4 separate regions of the Homo sapiens genome follow, and all the other regions are reported to be linked to region 2. Evidence: microRNA targets listed by miRTarBase, many of them from high-throughput screens and not tested one by one. Region 2 holds a microRNA gene; each other region holds the end of a gene's coding sequence.

Evidence for each region. The annotated mature microRNA hsa-miR-5006-3p reads UUUCCCUUUCCAUCCUGGCAG and lies in region 2 at 1,324-1,344, shown strand. An mRNA with a match to its seed (bases 2 to 7 or 8) in the 3' UTR can be bound and repressed. Matches are read on the target gene's strand: a 7mer-m8 pairs with bases 2 to 8, a 7mer-A1 pairs with bases 2 to 7 and ends in A, and an 8mer does both.
Region 1: the mRNA of UFD1 is a reported target of hsa-miR-5006-3p. The part of its 3' UTR that is shown has no 7-base or 8-base seed match.
Region 3: miRTarBase lists UGT2B28 as a target of hsa-miR-5006-3p. Seed matches in the 3' UTR shown: 7mer-A1 at 2,228-2,234.
Region 4: miRTarBase lists AFF4 as a target of hsa-miR-5006-3p. The part of its 3' UTR that is shown has no 7-base or 8-base seed match.

What each region holds. Positions count from the first base shown.
Region 1 is chr22:19,447,744-19,451,013 of GRCh38, forward strand. UFD1 (ubiquitin recognition factor in ER associated degradation 1) reads right to left here. Exons shown (of 12, transcript NM_005659.7): 12 at 2,168-3,001. The coding sequence ends at 2,927. It overlaps UFD1-AS1 (UFD1 antisense RNA 1), which reads left to right. Exons shown (of 2, transcript NR_186687.1): 1 at 1-582. Among named protein-coding and RNA genes, the nearest start is that of C22orf39, 1.7 kb to the left of the region's middle. RefSeq lists an enhancer at 1-66.
Region 2 is chr13:41,566,380-41,569,649 of GRCh38, reverse strand. MIR5006 (microRNA 5006) reads left to right here and starts at 1,255; the gene lies at 1,255-1,364. VWA8 (von Willebrand factor A domain containing 8) reads left to right here. Exons shown (of 45, transcript NM_015058.2): 45 at 1,345-2,815. The coding sequence ends at 1,453.
Region 3 is chr4:69,294,257-69,297,256 of GRCh38, reverse strand. UGT2B28 (UDP glucuronosyltransferase family 2 member B28) reads right to left here. Exons shown (of 6, transcript NM_053039.2): 6 at 2,207-2,727. The coding sequence ends at 2,448. Among named protein-coding and RNA genes, the nearest start is that of UGT2B28, 15 kb to the right of the region's middle.
Region 4 is chr5:132,878,405-132,881,404 of GRCh38, forward strand. It overlaps AFF4 (ALF transcription elongation factor 4), which reads right to left. Exons shown (of 21, transcript NM_014423.4): 21 at 1-2,782. The coding sequence ends at 2,655. Among named protein-coding and RNA genes, the nearest start is that of LEAP2, 6.2 kb to the left of the region's middle.

The sequences.
Region 1 (3,270 bases), not on the chromosome of region 2:
GAAGAAAACGGCACCTCGTGATCGACTGACAGAAGAACTAATGAGCACCGACACATTCAATCACGTCTTCGCCCCCTTCTTCGAGAAGCGCCGACAAACAGGACGAGCAACCAATAGCAACCGAGGGCGGCTGCGGCGCGCGCGGAGGGCCGGGGTCGCAGGGTAAATCCGGGGCGAGACCTGGCGCGAAGCCTACGCGACCACCGCGACGACAGCGCCATTCACCCCGGGCCAGGCGGGCATCCTGGGCCGCGCAGCTACCTTACGTCAGCCGCCTCTCAAATCACACGGCTCTGGCCAGTTCTTTTCAGCAGCTTTATGAGATTTTCTCAAATCTCAACAATCCGGTATATTTTCAAAAGTACATACTGAGCATCAAGGTGGTGCAGCGAACCTCCCAGATCTGCAGCTCCAGCAGTCTTGCTTGAGCGTCCACTCAGGATGGAGGTGAACTCGCAAAGTAACTGAGATTGGTTGGGCATGACATATGGTGGATCTAGGGTTGAATGACCTCCCCAGGGAACGCAGGCTTGAAGTGGAGGCTGAGAATGCAATCCGAGTACAGCCATAGGCCGGTCAAAGGTATGGAGGCGGTGTGTAGCAGGGGTGAGCGGGGTAGGAGTGGCTTGGATGTCTGTAGTTCTATTCTAAGGGTGCGGGAGACATGTAACATTTACCTTATTCATTTTTCGAGACAGGGTCTTGCTGTGTCACCCAGGCTTAGTGCAGTGGCGTGGCGTGTTCATGGCTTACTGCAACCTCAAACTCCTGGACTCCGAACAGCTGGGACCAAAAGCATGCACAGCCTCACCAGGCTAATTTTTAATTTTTTTTTTTTTTTTTTGTAAAGATGGGGTCTTGCTAAGTTACCCAGGCTAGTTTGGCCTCAAGCGACCCTCTCACTTTGGCCTCCCAAAGTGCTAGGATTATAGGCGGAGCGCCAGTGCCTGGCTGGGACGTTTATAAAAAGGAGCAATGCACAAGAGGCAACAAAGGCAAGTAAAGAGGAGGCTGGTGGGCTTGCAGAAACGCCCTGCAGTACCTATGCTGCGGTTCTCCCACTTCACTGATAACAAATCCTCAGTATCCACTGATACAAATCCTGGGACTGCTGGGCCAGTCCCAGGAATGACACTGGGACAGACTCCCTGGAGGTGGATCAGAAAGCTGCAGTTTTACCAGGGGTCCTGCTGTTGAGGCAGCCGGCTCAAGGACCAAGCCCAAATAAGACACTGAGAGGAAGGCTGCAGGCCAGGGTGCAGGAGTAATGACCAGGATCAGTGCTCCAACTGGCCCCACTGTGTCATTAAAAGGCTCTGCAATGGAATCCATCCTGGTCCAGGCAGGGGAGTGTGCCTCCAGCAAAGGACCAGGCGTTTCACTGCATACACAGCAGGTGTTGCTTAGTGAAGACAAAAACCCAGAGCCAGAGGTACTGTAACATTCTTCATTATGCATAAAGTGACAGTCTGTTAGCTGATGTGATCCTGCAAATGAAGGCTGTCTACCCACCAAGGGTTTCTCCCTCTGCTAGTAAAACTGAGACTTTGTCAGTGGAGGCTCAGGTAAGTCCCCACAGTGCTCATGCCTTCCAAAACCACGCCCATTTCCAGTGATGATGGTTTGTGCCACAGGCCAAGTACTGAACATCATGACACTCATAGACACTCTTCACTGAAGACGTGGATAGACCCTGGGGCCACCATTCTCTCCTCTCTGGAGTGTTGGAGGGGCCCTGACCAGGGCAGGACCCCCATGTCTGGAAGCAGGGTTAGCCCTGGCTCATGGGGGACCCTGCTGGGCTTAGCCATTGCCACCTAGGGATCAGGCAGCCTTGTTTCTTCCTACTTTCTCCAGGAGAAGCCCCAGAGGGACACTTTTCTAATGGTGAGATGGAACACGGAGCACCTGCCAACAGGCCTTCAGTTATGGTCAGAGGCCCAACCACCAGTCTGTGTTAGTACCTAATCAAACATTTAGATTTAGGCTTTAGTTATTGCCTGTTTTTACTTGAAATTCTTGGCTTAGAATTATTCCCAATGGGGCCAGGCACAGTGGCTCATGGGAACAAATTTAAAATAATCAGATTAGCATGTCAAAAGATCTCACGTTATAGAAAGTGAAGATCTAAGACCAAATAAATACTGATAAAAAATACAGGCCAGCAGAAGCTTGGATGATTTAATAAATTAAAATTGGGAGTTGGGGAGTAGGGAAGAAGGAGAGGAACATCTCTTTAGCATTTGTTCATTCTAACATTCACATGTTTGCTTCTCCATGGAGTTGTTTCACTATGAACAGGTTCACTAAGGAGCCAGTTATGTCCATATGAAATGAGAATAAAAGTGCAAACTCATTCAGATCAGGTTCTTCTGAGTGGTGTTTTTGAAAAAAATATGTAAAATAAAAATAGAAACATTCTTTGTCAAATACTTAAATTGCAGCCACAGTAGTGGGACAGCCACTACTTATAGAACACATGTCTATTTAAAGCCTTTTTTTAGGCCAAAGACTGACACCTATGCAATTGATGTAGGAAAAGAAAGGATAAATGAAGAAAAAGAAAGAACACTTCATGTTAGACAATTTAGTCACCTTCATAGGTTTTGACAGAATTAGGGATGCAGAATTGCTCCTGCTGAGGCAGTGGGAGCTCCCCTCAAGCTGAAAGCGTGAAGAGGTGAGGAGGCAGCTATCTACAGGCCCTCAGGGACAGCTCTTTGTCTTTCCCCAAATCAAGCATACAACTACAAAGTCCTGCTGCTCCACTTCCAAGTCAAACTTAATAATTCTTAGGTAACTCTAAATAAATCTTAAGTAACAGAGTATTCTCTGATGAGGCTCGTCCCTGTCAGTGCCAGTAACTAAAAGCCAAGATGTTGCAAATGATTCTTTTATTATTTTCCAATCAGCCAACAGTCCTCACTTAGGGCTTTCTTCCCTTTTTACGCAATGACTGTCCTTCTCCAGAGAAAGCGACGAATCTGCCTCCAGCTTCATCCTAGGTTTGAAGAGAAGATACTATTTTCAGAAACTCCCTGGAGGTTTACAATAAATGCCTTACTCTATGGACTCACGTACCATCCACATTACTCATAAGAAATATCTCAGGCTGGACACGATAGCTGACACCTGTAATCCCAGCACTTTAGGAGGCCTAGGTGGGAGGATCACTTGAGCCCAGGAGTTCAAGACCAGCCTGGGCAACATAGTGAGATCCCATCTCTACCAAAAATAGCTCAGTGTGGTATGTGCCTATGATCCCAGCTA
Region 2 (3,270 bases):
AAAATCCCTGCCTAAAGCACAAAGGGCCTACGTTTTTGTTATTCCACCCCTTTTACTTTTCATACTCTGTGACTGGAAATGTTTTAATATCCAAAATGCTAGCAGCTTTTTCTCTTTCTATTCCCTTTGCCTTGCTGTAAGGTTGCAGAGCGAGGTTGAGAACAGACTTAATATCATGTAGTTACAGTCATTTTATGACATGACTTTTCATTCTTCTTAGTTTTTACAAGTTAGCACTTTGCATCTTTTAGAACCTCCACATCCTCAAACACAAACTATGCCTTTTCCACCCAGGTTTTCCTCAGCATCAGCCCAGTATTAGGCAGACAACAAGCTCAACAAATACTAGTTGAGATGAAATGGCTATTTTGTCTTTCTAGTGAACAGATCCTGTTTGAATACTTAAGAAAGCACAATAATACCCTTGTGGTTTCCTAGGGAAATGGTCCAACATCCACTGGCAAAAGATATGTTGCAGAATTAGCTGGCTTACCAGGCATGCCAAATATACGATACTACACAGGATGGTTGAATTTTATTAAATGTCATTCCAAAGCCAGACTTCACTGGCACAGTGAAAGGAGGCGTTCTTTTGAAGAGAACTGTGTCTTACAGTTTTGTTGCCTTCAAAATGGCCTTTTGTTCCAAATTATAAATTAGTATTTAAAAAAGTATCGTAACTTCAATGACATGTTATTTTTAAGGATAATTCAAATCAAAACCCATTATAAGTTTTTTAAAATTCACTTAAAAATGAGTTGGAAAAAATTTCATAAGCCTGTATAACCTCAGTGTCATTGAAGCAGTAATTGGACAATCCAGATCGCATTTCACATTGTGTGATGTGGACCAAAAAAAAGAGAGAGAGGCAAAGAAAGAGAGAAAGAACCACTCAGGGTTTGGCTGCGCAGCGTTTTTAGAGGCCTGTTTTCTAAGGAAGGAAAAGCACTTCGAAATACAGTGTAAGGTCAACATATTTGCTAGACCCGGGAGGTGAGCTGATTCCATATGAATCCCTATGGCTCTGTTATACCAAAAGAATATGAAATACCAAGAAATGGCAGTAAAGAAAGGAAGAAAATTTTTTCTTTTCAAATTCACTGACTTTCTCACTGAAAAGACCTTTCTTTCAGTTCCCTGCTTTTGCTGTGTCTTTCCTTGTTGCTCTTCCAAGCCTTTCATTGTTTAATGACGACTAATTCAATGGTAGGCAGAGAGCAAGGTATTAGAAAGTAAAAACTTCCTTTCCTAAGAAACCATTAGGGGGCTGTGGTTTGCCAGGGCAGGAGGTGGAAGGGAGCCCCATTTACAGTGGTAACTTCCTTTCCCTTTCCATCCTGGCAGGCTTCAGAGAACTTTACCAGCTGGTCGGTCTTTCGTTGCCATGGATACCAAGGATATCCCTCAGATTTTACAACAGATCTTCACCTCCACCATGTTGTCGAGTGTCTAAGAAGTGCCCTTCATCACCCTGATGACACCAGGATTTGAAATAAGACAGGAATAAAGAGTATTCTGAAAAAAAGAAGATATGGATGAAGTGAACCCATGCAGTGACTGGATGATTCCGGCATTCCTGGGTCTTCCTACACTTGCTCCGTAATGAGAATTCAGAGAAGCAGCCAGAAGGAGACTTAAACATGGAAAGATACTCCACTGATGAGTTTAGAAGTGATTAGGGCAAGCTAGTTGACCTGCACTTTATCAAAGGTTGGGGTTAAAGGAAGGTGGTTTTGAGAACTATGTGTTTGGTCTATTTCCAAAAACCTGAGGGGGAGAAAATACTTTGCTTTTGCCTTAACACATCATCTGGTCACGTTAGAAAAGTGACCCCATCAAACTGAGCCTTTGATGTCACATTCTGACACAAGATGCAAGTCTGTGCAAAACCCACCAAAATGCTCCTATCCAACAATTATTTTTATTTTCTCCCTGCTCTGTATTGACCAGAAAACAATGATTTTATAATATTTAACCCACCAAAAAGTCCCTCCAACAGCAATATCTTATGAAAGTCTGGCTGTTCTCAATAATTTCATTTTCTTGGCCAAAGCCAAAAGGAATCAAAAAATCCTTGGAGTGCTTGCCTTTCCACGTGACTTTTAAAAGGCTCTTAAAGAGCAAATGTCCTCTTCTCCTTGCTGCTAGAGTGGGAGGAGAAAGATGTCTTGCCTTAAAAGTTTACTGTTTCTTCTGTTCTTCTAGCATCTCTCAAAAAATTCACAGTACTCCATTTTGGGGTCCAAACTGTAATGCTCAAAATAATAAATGCTTACACGAAAATTATTTATTGAGAATATTCATATAAAAATTACCTAAAGCAAAGTAAAAAAAGTAAAATCAAGGTGGTATATTTGAAGTGAATGGTGATTGGAAATTTTTAGCTGTAACAAAAAGAAAGAAAACAACTTTTTTTAAAGCCTCATTCTCTTTTCTTTCAAAATGTACCTTATTCCCACACACTCTTGGGCTGACCTTTATTTTATCAATAAGCTCAATATTACTTTGTTTAAAATAAGATGCTTCAGCAAAAGTCATTCTCTCTTTAACCATATAATTTAAAAACTCCTCTTCACGATTGATAGCAAAATCAGAAACGTTAGGGCACCAGTGAGTTGAAAAAACTGGTCTTAAGTTGGAAAAACTATTATTAATAATATTATCCTATCCATCCATATCTATTGAAATTGTACAGGTCCATAATTTCATTTTAATTAATTATAGGAAAGAAGAAAAGATAATACCCATTTGTTCTATCACCCCTCTCCCTATCATTAACTATCAAATAAATAAATAAAAGCAATCTGATTTCCAACGTGGTACTACCTGGTGAGTTTGCATGGCTTTCTTGTTCCTCTAGTGAGACACCTGCTCCATGTATTGAACCATTCAATGATGCAAACAATTTCAATCCAACATGTATCTTTAAAAATGTAATTGCATTCCAACGGTCGCCACAACAGCAGCTAGCATTTACTGATGATTTACTGTGAACCAGGTATATGCTAAGTGATTGCATACATTATTTCATTCATCCTTACAACAATGCATGTAACAGGGGTATTTTTTACCTTATTTTGCAGATGATAAAGAAAGTGAGGCTCAGAGAATTTAAGTCACTTTCCCAAGATTCCTGTTACTAGACCTTTCACTAACTATTCATGGTACCATTAACATCCTCATTTTACAAGTAAAGAAACTGAGGCTTAGAGAAGTTCAAGAAAATAGGCCACACTCACAGCCAGGCAGGGGCAAAGCTGGGCCTCCAGC
Region 3 (3,000 bases), not on the chromosome of region 2:
ACCTATCGCACTACTGTGTATCTTCCCGGAGGAAAGAAAATTTTTATATGAAAAAGACCCACACACATACATGTTTGCAACAGTACTATTCGCAATTAAAAAAGAAAAAGAATGGAACAAGCCTAAATGCCCATCAACCAACCAATAAGTGGATAAAGAAAATGTGGTATACATACAAACACACACACACAGATGTTGCAGGAAGTCAGGGATCCCGAATGGAGGGACTGGGTGGAGCTGAGGCAGAGGAACATAAATTGTGAAGATTTCACTTTAATATGGACATTTATCAGTTCCCAAATAATACCTTTAGAATTTCTTATGCCTGTCTTACTTTAATATCTTAATGCTGTTATCTTCATAACCTGAGGATGTACATCACCTCAGGGCCACTGTGATAATTGTGTTAACTGTACAAAGTGCTTGTAAAACATGTGTGTTTGAACAATAAGAAATCAGTGCACCTTGAAAAAGAACAGAATAACAACAACATTTAGGGGACAAGGGAAGACAACCATAAGGTCTGACTGCCTGTGAGGTGGGGCAAAAAGAGCCATTTTTTCTTCTTTCAGAGAGCCTATAAATGGACGTGCAAGTAGGGAAGATATCGCTAAATTCTTAGCCTAGCAAGGAATATTAATATTAGTAATCTGGGAAAGGAATGCATTCCTGGGGGGAGGTCTATAAACAGCCACTCTGAGAATGTCTGTCTTACGTGGTTGAGATAAGGACTGAGGTATGTCCTGGTCTCCTGCAATACCCTCAGGCTTATTAGGGTGGGGAAAATCTCCACCCTGGTAAATTTGTGGTCAGACCAGTTCTCTGCTCTCGAACCCTGTTTTCTGTTGTTTAAGATATTTATCAACACAATACATGCACCACTGAACATAGACCCTTATCAGTAGTTCTGCTTTGCCCTTTGTCCTGTTCCCTCAGAAGCATGTGATCTTTGTTCTGCCTTTTGTCCTTTGAAGCATGTGATCGTTGTACCTACTCCCTGTTCCTACACAACTCCCCACCCCACCTTTTGAAACCCTTAATAGAAAACCTGCTGGTTTGAGGCTCAGGTGGGCATCATGGTCCTACCAATATGTGATGTCACCCCCGGCAGCCCAGCTGTAAAATTCCTCTTTTTGTACTCTTTCTCTTTATTTCTCAGCTGGCCAACACTTATGGAAAATGGGAAGAACCTACATTGAAATATTGAAGGTGGGTTCCCCTGATACAAACACACACAAACACACACACACACACACGTATACACACGCATATACACTATATATATATATATATATATATATATATATATATACCATGGAATACTACTAAGCTGTAAAAAGAAACAAACTAATGGCATTAACAGCAACTTGCATGAAGTGGGAGAGCATTATTCTAAGTGAAGAAATTCAGGAATAGAAAACTGAACATCGTCAATTGTCACTTCTAAGTGGGATCTAAGCTATAAGGATGCAAAAGCATAAAGATGATGTAATGGGCTCTAAGGATTCAGATGGGAGTGTGGGAGGGGGTGAGGGATAAAGAGTATACATTCAGTGCAAGGTACACTTCTCACATGATATGTGCCACGTAACCTCAGAAATTACCACTAAAAAACGTATGCATCTAATCAAACACCACCTGTTCCCAAATAACTATTGAAGTAATTAAAAATATCAGAATAAAATCAACGAGAAAAATATCTTTAAATATCTGGAAAAAATAGAATTTGCTCATGAAACCAAAGATGTGGCAAAACAGTTCAATTTTACAGTAGGAAGCAGGTAACAGTGGCTATATTTCTAATTTCACATAATTTCCACTGAGAAATGACTTATGCTCTTAAAACAGTAAACATTTGGCCATCAATTTTAGCAAAAAATGTGACAATGAAGCTGCATGCAGTGTAAAAGTAAAGCAATACTACTTATCTCAAGATATCAAAAGGAAGAGAGAGACTTTTTATACAATTTAACTATGTAATAGTTTCTTTAGCAACAGTTAAAACAACCGAATCCTGTTCAAAATGAAGCCAAATTATTCTGAGTATGTGCAAAACACTACTGATACTGTCAGTAGACTTCTTAATGTTCTTGTGTTTATATAAAATGTGTGAAATGTAGTTAAACTGAGTAATATTTTTATGTAACTTGTGAATTCAAACAACAAATCTCAATATAAGTGCAACAAATTTCAATATGAGCTCATATGGCTTTATATTATTTTTTATTTTCCCTAGTGTTTTCTTCATTGCCACAGAATATTTCTAACCATTACCTGGGTGGTAAATCTCTGAAAAACAAATTTTTACTTGACAAGGTAGATTTTGAAAAGTTTTTTTTTTTGTCACAGGAAGAAAGAAATCTTGCATAACAATCTTTTCTTTCTTGCTGGAATAAACTGATGTCAACCCATCTATCTGGTTTTCCAGCTTCAAATGTCAGACATAACTAATCTCTTTTTCCCTTCTTCCCTTTTCTAGCAAACTTCCAGAAACAAAACAGACAAAACTTTGTGACGACAAATATCACAGTTGCCACACAGGCCAGCAGAAACCCAATCACATCCAAAGAGTGGTACTGGAACCAGGTGAGGTCACGGGCTGCAACTCGAAGGTGTTTGGCTCCTTTGTGGCACATCACAAATTCAATCCAGAAGACTGCTCGATGCAGGGGCTTTACTGGTTGATCATGTTGAATTATTGATAATTTCATAACATTCTCTTTATATCTGAAGGATAAAAATAAAGATACCAACACTGAAAGTAAGTTAACTGGCCTGTATGTATCAAGTCTATGAAAGGCTTTTAAAGTGTCAAATAATTCAAAGTAAATTTGAAAGAATTGACAGAGAATTTGTGTATTTTAATTTGAGTCATCATAGATAGTTGGGCTTTTAAATTGGACTTTTCTCATTGACAAACATTTTTAAAGCAGAAATGGAAGGTCAGGTGAGAAAATTAATTTTTTTCAAGCAGAGAAAATATAAGGCATTTTAATTGTT
Region 4 (3,000 bases), not on the chromosome of region 2:
AGACTAAGTTTTTAGCCACTTGTCAAATTCAGTTTTAAATGCTTAGAAAACACTGAGGACACCTATTGAGGAGGGAGGGGGGAAGGTCACCTGTAAAGGAGTCCAAAGTATGTGCTGGAGCAGATGATGACAAAGACAGAACATCTAAGAAGATAGACATGGAGGAAAGGGAGTAGTATTTCCACACACTATGACATTGAAAATTCAATCATTTATGATAGGATTTTGATCCATTGCCCATTACTACCTTGTGGGAAAAATCCTCCACAATGAAAAGGTTGAAAAATTCATTCTCCAAAAATTGACACAGTTTTAAAGAGAAAATATTAGAGCAGCACCATAAACCATGCAGGAAACTCTGCTTTAACAAAATATCAGTGTGACCCCAAAAATGCTCCTGCTGCCTTTCAGGACATACAAGAGACTAGAACACAAGAACTCAGAGGTATCCCACTGGCTGTTGTTGCTGAAAGTCTGAAAGCCCAGAGGATACTTTTTCCATTTCTAAGACATCACTGCAAATTAAGGAATCCAAGTCAGAAAAATCAGAGAAGGACAAGACATAACATGTATTTGATTAACAACCATTATTTCTTACTAAATAACTATCATGATCATTGAGAAGTTGTCCTCTTATGGAAAACTGTTCCTAGAACACACTAAGATTAAGTTAGAAAGATATCAGAGGCAATTTCTCCAAGAGAAACAGGTTAAATTCAACATAATTTGTACATCTCAATCTTCAATGACATCTAAAAACAATCTGAGGTACAAAACAGTTAAGAAGCTCTATAAATATGAGGCCACAGGGACAATGAAAGTTCACTAACTTCAGAAATAAGTGTAAAAAAGTCTCAAACACAAAGGATTCACTGCACTACTGGACTTGAAACTTTTCTATCCCTTCTTTCCCCTTTCCTATTTCAAGCCTTAGCAATCATCTACAAATAGTAGGATAATCTTTTTTTCTGACTGAATGGATTCATTTTTGGAATGGGGAGAGGGACAAACTATTTTTCAAAGCAGCATTACCCAACTGGTTAGACTAAGTCATGTACCAAAGCAATAGCTTTTCTGAAAGAACTAATCTTTATATGACCCTAAAGAAAGATTTAAAATGAAAGAATTGAACATTATTATTGTAGAAGACCAATCATGTATGGACGATCTGGTCCTAGTGTAAAACTTCATTTGTAAACAATCCATAGAGTCTTCATTTAAAGGTAAGATTTAAGGCACACCAAACATGATAGGGGCATGAAAAATAAAGTATAGAGGGTACATTTCTTATCTTAGACTTCTATATGCACCTTGTAGCAAAAGGTACTTTGATATACAACTCTTACAGAGCCAGCTTCTTTAAGCTCTACCCCTGGCTCCACTCCCTGTCCCAAGAGCTCACACTGAATCAAGTTAGGTACACTTTTCTAGTGTGAAATTTTCTGATTCCATCAGAAACATACATCATTGAAGAGGGCCTTCATAATGCAAAAGGAGTAAACAGAAGATAGGTTTAAAAAGGAGAAATTCATCATCTCTACATCAGGCATTAGAACTGTAAGCTGTATAGCAAAAGCACACACCGAAGCTCCAGCCTATTTCTGTATCAGTCATTGCATGCTCATATCAGAGCATCACAATCCAGTATGAGGGGGAAAAATCTGAAAAATAACTCTAACTATCAAAGATAATCAATTAAAGACACACAGGCGGCAATCCTCAGGAGTTGGATCATCCTTTTTTCCACAGTAACTTATTCTGTTTCGATTAAGTGTCAAATGATTAGCAACAAAAAATAACATATGGTTTTAATAAAATCCGTAACGTTCAGGATTGTCCTTTTATGAAACCCTTCAACATGAAATGCTTCTTCTAGAAAGTTTGTCCTCCCTCTTTTGTAATGCATTAAATGCAAGCTATAGTCACTGTGTGATTGCTGTAGTGTTATTAACACACATTCACAGTTTTTGAAATAATGCATACCAAATCAGACACATTTCATAGTACATACATGTAGAATGCCATTTTCTCATATTTAAGTGATTTTTTCATGTGTAGAAGAATATCCTTAATACTAACTGTAAATTCCACAATAATAAAATTGGAGTTAAGATTTCAAATATCAGGTCAGGTAGCAGGTGTAGAAAGAATATGTCCTTATTTTAGACGAACCAATTCTTACTCTTAGAACAGCTACCACAAAAAGATATTAGGTAATAAAGCTCCCAAGGTATATAAATAAAAATGTCTACATTAAATTTATGCTAAATATTCAACAGAGTAAATTTATAGGCAGAAATAACTAAGTCTTAAACTAGCCCCAATCTGGGAACTTAAAAAAATTAAAATAAATAAAATTTCAATTCATTAGTTATGAATTGCAACTGGAATTTCAATCTTATCATAGCTCACGGAAACCATCTTATCAATGTGCTGCAGATTTAAAAGCATTTAAATAATCTTTCACATTGGAAATATTAAAGGGCCAACTGACATGATCGCTTTGGATTATCAAAAACAACAACACATGAACCAACGAGGAGAAAACTATTCCTCATTCTTAGTGTCGACTAGGTGGTATGTTATGGCAGTTTTCCTTCGTGATGTGACACAGTGTTGTGGAGAAAATCAGAGGCAACGAGAATGTGTTCAGTTCAAGATATCAACTTGGCATCCTGGCGAAGCCAGTGCAGTCCCTGCCGGGTATAACGAACTAGATCTGTCATGATGCTTGCATTAAAGATGAGAGGGCCCATTACTTTATCCAGTTCAGCAAAGAATTCTAGAAAACCAAAAACATTCATTAAATGATATATACTCTTTTGAATCACTGCTTTAAAACTATGAGTAGAGATTATAAAACAGCATTCATAAACTCAAAAAATACCTCCTCCTACACTAAAATGCTTACTGTCCATGTTTTAGAGCAAATCATTCCATAGTCTCTCAAGTTACATTTGTTCCCTAAGTCATGCAACATTTTAAACAGAATGTATGGTC